Homo sapiens: one gene and its partner. Changing the gene in region 1 together with any one later gene gives a genetic interaction. Each region holds a gene or a part of one and is shown on either strand. Other genes may lie near its edges.

Region 1 (4,024 bases):
CTGATGTACACTTTGCAAGGCCGAGGTAGGAGGATCACTTGAGGCTAGGAATTCAAGGTTGCAGTGAGCTATGACCGTGACACTGCCCTTTAGCCTGGGAGACAGCAAGATCCTGTCTCTAAAACAAACAAACAACAACAAAAAAAACCACAGATCTATATGACATCCAATCTTTCTGATACCAGTATCATTACTTTTATCAAAAGATAATTTTTTAATAAAACTCTGCAAGCACATAAGAAAAAATGTTCCACCACTGATGACAATTTGAGCTGATCCACAGCTCAAACTCTCTTGCTGCCTTTGAACAGTGGGTAGTAGGACTAGTACAACAAACTCTAGTCAGCACATATGCCAAGTATCCAGAATTAGGAAATAAGGAGATAATGGGGTATCCTTGGCCAAAAGTATCCAAAAAATAAGAAGAGACAGAAAGGAGCAGTGGCTCATGCCTGTAATCCCAGCATTTTGGGAGGCCAAGGTGGATGGATCACCTGAGGTCAGGAGTTTGAGACCAGCCTGACCAACATGGTGAAACCCCATCTCTACTAAAAATACTAAAATTAGCTGGGCGTGGTGGCGGGCACATGTAATCCCAGCTACTTGGGAGGCTGAGGCAGGAGAATTGCATGAACCTGGGAGGCAGAGGTTGCAATGAGCTGAGATCATGCCATTGCACTCCAGCTTGGGCGACAGAGCAAGACTCCGCCTCAAAAAAAAAGACCAACACAATATCAGAAGCTACAGAATCAGTGCCAGTCTGAATACAGATTACAGAGCAAAGTGTCTTTAAAATATACTACCAAGTGCCATATTTTTATTTTGGAAAATAAAAAAAGGAAATGGTTGGACATTTTTGTAATGAAAGGCACATTCCCTTTAAATTTTTCTTCTTGCAAAAGTCTTTGTTCAGAGATGAGACTAATGTGCCTTCTATTTCCACAAGTTTTTCATTCATTCACTCAGTACCTACAATACCCTAGTGCTTGCTGTGAGTGTCCTCCTAGAAAAGAATGTCAAACTTCCTGGCAAAACTGGGGAAGACTCCAAAACTTGGAGTTCTGAACACATGAATTCAATTCTTGAAGAAATGAATTTTGAAATTTGAGTAAGGGCCAACCAGGTGGAGACAAAGTCACTCCAAAAAGATTGAGGAGCTCCTGCAAAGACAGGGTCTGAAAAGAATGCAAGGTTTAAAAATAAAACAAATGTCAGTGGATGGAGCATAGCTCGGGTGGAGAAGAGTATGGGCAAATAAGGTCTAATGGTTCCCAACTTTATGGGGAACCCGCTCTTCAAGGGGCTGCTTGGAAATAAATGGGATCATATTGGATTGTTAAAAAGAAGTTAGAGTTTGCCATTGCCATTTAGTGCTGAGGGACCAGGTAAAATAAACATCCTACAATGTACAGGACAATCCCACACAGTGAAGAGTTGTCTGTAAAAATGCCAGTAGAGCTCCCTTTGAGAAATACTGGGAAGTAGGTAAGGAATTAACAAAGTCTAGAGAATTTAACTCTAGGGCCTCAGCGTATCCTTTAAAATCTGTGATCACAATCTCCATTTCACTCACTAAATATTTACTAGGTGCTAAAAGATAAACCAAGGCACATTAAAATTTTAAAGGATTTATTTGAGGTCAGGCAAAGTAATCCTAGCACTTCGGGAGGACAAGGCAGGTGGATTGCCTGAGCTCAGGAATTCAAGACCAGCCTGGGCAAATGGTGAGATCCCGCCTCTACAAAAAAATACAAAAATTAGCCTGGCATAGTGGTGCATGCCTGTAGTCCCAGCTACTTGGGAGGCTGAGGTGGGAGGATAGCTGGAGCCCAGGAAATTGAGGCTGCAGTGAGCCATAACTGCACTACTGCCCTCCAGCCTGGGCGACACAACAAGATACTGTCTCAAAAAACAAAAACAAGAAAATGTTTATTTAAGCAGACAATGGTTAACCCATTTATGCTGGAGGTTGCAAATTTTTTTTGTGAAAAATCAGACCTTGGCGATGACCATGAGCAGGATATAAATAACTCCCACAAGCTTAGCGTTCCAATAATGGAACACTAGGCATATTAATGAATTGGTCAGCTCCAGAATGCAAGCAATATGGGGCTGCACCAAAAGGACACAGTTAGAAGGCTTTTGAAGAGTGAACGGCAGAAGCAAGGCCAAGAAAATCTGTGATTGGTCAAAGTGGAGTAGCCTTACTTGGATCATTCCAGTAAAAGTCAGTGGTTAGAGGTTAGTTGATGGTTTCTGATTGGTTAAGCTAAAGTTTCATTTTCCTAGAATACAACCATTTACACTGAGTTTGGTGTAAGTCTGTTTATGTAGGAACCCAGGGCACTGGAGCTTCCTCAGGCAATGGCCTCCCAATTAATTATTTTAACACAGGAAGCTGTTTTTGCTGGGCAATAAATATGTTTCCTTCTTTCCTTTGACCACCATGAAGCTTGGAACTTTGTGGCCTACCTTTAATAACTGTACAACAGGCCGGGCGCAGTGGCTCACGCCTGTAATCCCAGCACTTTGGGAGGCCGAGGCGGGCGGATCACGAGGTCAGGAGATCGAGACCATCTTGGCTAACACGGTGAAACCCCGTCTCTACTAAAAATACAAAAAAAAAAAAAAATTAGCCGGGCAAGGTGGCGGGCGCCTGTACTCCCAGCTACTCGGGAGGCTGAGGCAGGAGAATGGCGTGAACTCGGGGGCCGGAGCCTGCAGTGAGCCGAGATCACGCCACTGCACTCCAGCCTGGGCGACAGAGTGAGACTCCATCTCAAAAAAAAAAAAAGATAAAATAAATAAATAAATAAATAACTCTACAACATTCACAGTATATTTTCAGTATAACTCACCCTAATCACATCTTTCTATTCAAGCTTCATATTTTTATGATCTTGATTCTCTTTATTTTGTATGTTATTATATATTATATAGTTTAAGCTACCTCAAATACTTTTGGAACAAAATTGAGTTTAAATTTAAAACTCTAAGCTACAAAAGTACAATAAAAAACAAAAAAGAAAAAGAAAACTAGATAGTAAGATGGGAAGAAAAAAATATTACACTGAGCCCCCAAATCATCCTGAGAGGTCTGAGACACTTTTTTTTTTTGAGAGGGGGGTCTCACTATGTCACCCAGGTTGGAGGGCAGTGATACCATCTCAGCTGACTGCAACCTCCACCTGCCAGGCTCAAGCAATCCTCCCGCCTCAGCCTCTTGAGTAGCTGGGACCACATGTGTGCACCACCATGCACAGCTAATTTTTTGTATTTTTTGTAGAGACAGGGTTTTGCAATGTTGCCAAGGCTGGTCTCAAACTCCTCAGCTCAGGCAATTTGCCTGCCTCAGCCTCCCAAAGTGCTGAATCACAGGCATGAACCACTGTACCCAGCCTTGGTTTAAGAGACTTTCAAAAAGAAGTATAATACAGTCTTTGCCTTCAATAGTTTGTAACCAAATATTTTTTTATTTTTCAGAATACACATTCTTCTCAAAGTAATCAAATTTTTAAGTAAAGATTCACATTGAAAAGAACATCAGAGAATAATGGATAACAAAAAACAGTGATAAATTGTACAACCACTGTTTAAAGAATTAGTATGGATTAAAATAATTAAAATTGCATATATTACTATGTATTAAGAACTAGTAACAAATCCTCAGAGCAACTTTTTGAGGTAAATTACTAGGATTTTCTTTATTTTATAGATAAGGAAATTGAGACAGAGAGGGTAACTTGTCCAAGGTAACACAGCTGTTAAGTGTAGTAATTTGACCTAAGGAAGTCTGGAACCAGAGCCTGGGCCCTACAGTAGTTAGATTTCAGTTAATCCTTGAATTATAGGAGGATATAGAAAGAAAGAAATAGAAGGGATGGGGCAGTGGCAGTGAACCTTGGAACAGATTGAAATGAGGTAGACCAGTAAAGAACCTGAATGGAGAGTATAGATTGAGGGATATTGAGAATCTGGGGACAGGGTGCAGGAAGTTTACAGTCTTAAAACTCAAAGGAAGCTT
Region 2 (2,866 bases), on another chromosome or scaffold:
GGAGAATCCACTGCTGGTACCACTGGAGGAAAAGGCAGTACTGCAGGAAGAACAAGCCAACCTGTGGTTCTCAAAGGTAAGGAGAGGCCGGGGGCAAGACTGCGGGGAGATGAGTCTTCCTTGGGAGAAGGGCAGCTGATGTTCTCCTATCACAGGGCAGCTTTGCTGGGATCGAGGACGATGCCGATGAGGCCCTGGAGATCAGTCAGGCCCAGCTGTTATTTGAGAACCGGCGGAAGGGACGGCAGCAGCAGCAGAAGCAGCAGCTGCCACAGACACCCCCTTCCTGTTTGAAGACTGAGATAATGTCTCCCCTGTACCAAGATGAAGCCCCTAAGGGAACAGAGGCTTCTTCGGGGACAGAAGCTGCCACTGGCCTTGAAGGGGAAGAAAAGGATGGCATCTCAGACAGTGATAGCAGTACTAGCAGTGAGGAAGAAGAGAGGTGAGTAGTTGCAGCTGAGAGAAGGGATGGAAAGGAAGCGGTGGCTTGAACCATTTCTCTAAATTGGGGGTTCTTAATCTTGGCTGCACATGGGGAGGGTTAAAAATACTGTACTGACGATCCTGATTTAACTGGTCTGGGGTACAGCCTGCATGGCAGGATTTTTGCAAATTCCGTGGGAGTGCGGTCTGAGTAGTACAGAGTGGTGGAATCACTCAGAGTCCTCCCCTCTTCACAGCTGGGAACCCCTCCGTGGTAAGAAGCGAAGCCGTGGGCCTAAGTCAGATGATGACGGGTTTGAGATAGTGCCTATTGAGGACCCAGGTGAGAGCTCTGTATGCAGTGGAATGAGAAAAGACCACTGGAAGTCTCAGTATTGGGAATTGAGCTTTGACCTTTCTCCTTCCCTCTCTAGCGAAACATCGGATACTGGACCCCGAAGGCCTTGCTCTAGGTGCTGTTATTGCCTCTTCCAAAAAGGCCAAGAGAGACCTCATAGATAACTCCTTCAACCGGTAAAGGGGCCATAAACTCATCAAGAGTGACCCAGGGTCTGGTGGGTAAATGGGTAATTTTTTGTTTTTGAGATGGAGTCTCGCTCTGTTGCCCAGGCTGGAGTGCAATGGCACGATCTTGGCTCACTGCAGCCTGATTCTCCTTGAATCGCTTGAGTCAGCCTTCTGAGTAGCTGGGATTACAGGTGCCAACCACCACGCCCAGCTAATTTTTGTATTTTTAGTAGAGATGGGGTTTCACCATGTTGGCCAGGCTGGTCAAACTCCTGACCTCAGGTGATCTGCCCACCTCAGCCTCCCAAAGTGCAGGGATTACAGGCGTGAGCCACCGTGCCCAGTCTGGTAATTTCTTTAGAAAGCCTGGAATGTTGGATATTAGACAGATGTCCTTTCCACTCAGGTACACATTTAATGAGGATGAGGGGGAGCTTCCGGAGTGGTTTGTGCAAGAGGAAAAGCAGCACCGGATACGACAGTTGCCTGTTGGTAAGAAGGAGGTGGAGCATTACCGGAAACGCTGGCGGGAAATCAATGCACGTCCCATCAAGAAGGTGGCTGAGGCTAAGGCTAGAAAGAAAAGGAGGGTAAGTGATGGGGCCTCCAGAGATTGGGTGGGGTGGGGGTGGGGGGATGGGGAAGAGGTCACCTGACAGGTTCCTTTGCAGATGCTGAAGAGGCTGGAGCAGACCAGGAAGAAGGCAGAAGCCGTGGTGAACACAGTGGACATCTCAGAACGAGAGAAAGTGGCACAGCTGCGAAGGTAATGGGAGGACACCACAAAGGTACACAGGGCTAAAAGTGCAGCAGAAAGCAAGCCTCTAACCTCTTCTCTTCCCCCCTGTAGTCTCTACAAGAAGGCTGGGCTTGGCAAGGAGAAACGCCATGTCACCTACGTTGTAGCCAAAAAAGGTGTGGGCCGCAAAGTGCGCCGGCCAGCTGGAGTCAGAGGTCATTTCAAGGTGGTGGACTCAAGGATGAAGAAGGACCAAAGAGCACAGCAACGTAAGGAACAAAAGAAAAAACACAAACGGAAGTAAGCAGAGCTGCCAGGCTCCCAGGAGAGCATGGGGACTAGGAGGAAGGGTGTGGCATGGCTCAGTCTGGCCCCCTTGATTACCGGCCTAGCCCCTGCTCACATCACAGCTGTCTGAAGAACAGTGAGGTGGAGTGCCTAGAACTCCCGTGGTGGTCCTGAGCAGAGAGGAGGATGTCCTCCTGCCTGCCTGAAGGTCTCCCATGAAAACACTGCTGAACTGTGTTGACACTCATGACCCTTTTTTTAAACCGTTAAAGGGAAGTTCGGTGTTGGAGCGATACTCAATGTAGTCAGTCTACACCTGGACGTGTGGGCCACTTAAGCCCTCCCCACCCCCATCCTATTCCTGAATAAAACCAGGATAATGGAAGAGTTGTCTTTTCTGACAGTTTTAATAAGCACTTCCCTATCTGTCCCTACACTGTGTGCGGCACTATTCTTAATATGTACCAATTCATAGACAGAAATGACAAACGATCCACAGGTCCCGGTAGTAAAACATTTACTAGAGAGCAAGCAGAAAGGAATGCACATCTTAAAGAAACCTTCACAAAGTCACAAAAGTCAAAGTTTGTATATTTCTTTTCCTTTTTATAAACGATAAACAAAAATCATCAAAATCATTTCAGCAAAAGACTTTTCTATCATTGGGGCAAGTTAAAAAAAATACAATGAGATAGAAGACACTTTAAAAGCTGTTGTTGGGTTTCTTGTTTAATTTTAAATTTAGCAATACCATCTCAAACCTGGAGCAATCCTGGAACAGTTACCAGGATCACCTTTTCCCTTCAATCCTTGTGGCTTCTGGGAATCTTCAGAGCCTGGGTCTGAAAGGTGTTTCCTACATGTCTCAGGGCTGGATGCAAACCT

What was found. Genes that interact genetically often act in the same process or in processes that back each other up.
Region 2: of ATG10 (region 1) and FTSJ3, changing one suppresses a phenotype caused by changing the other (phenotypic suppression), as found in Homo sapiens cells (one large-scale study listed by BioGRID).

The regions. Positions count from the first base shown.
Region 1 is NC_000005.10:81,974,776-81,978,799, reverse strand, and holds part of ATG10 (ubiquitin-like-conjugating enzyme ATG10), read right to left. Parts: intron 2,608-4,024; exon of another isoform or gene 2,473-2,607; intron 472-2,472; exon of another isoform or gene 1-471. UniProt on the Homo sapiens protein: E2-like enzyme involved in autophagy. Acts as an E2-like enzyme that catalyzes the conjugation of ATG12 to ATG5. ATG12 conjugation to ATG5 is required for autophagy. Likely serves as an ATG5-recognition molecule. Not involved in ATG12 conjugation to ATG3.
Region 2 is NC_000017.11:63,818,933-63,821,798, reverse strand, and holds the end of FTSJ3 (pre-rRNA 2'-O-ribose RNA methyltransferase FTSJ3), read left to right. Parts: coding exon 1-76; intron 77-155; coding exon 156-445; intron 446-683; coding exon 684-769; intron 770-860; coding exon 861-960; intron 961-1,360; coding exon 1,361-1,544; intron 1,545-1,625; coding exon 1,626-1,720; intron 1,721-1,804; coding exon 1,805-1,997; 3' UTR 1,998-2,366; downstream 2,367-2,866.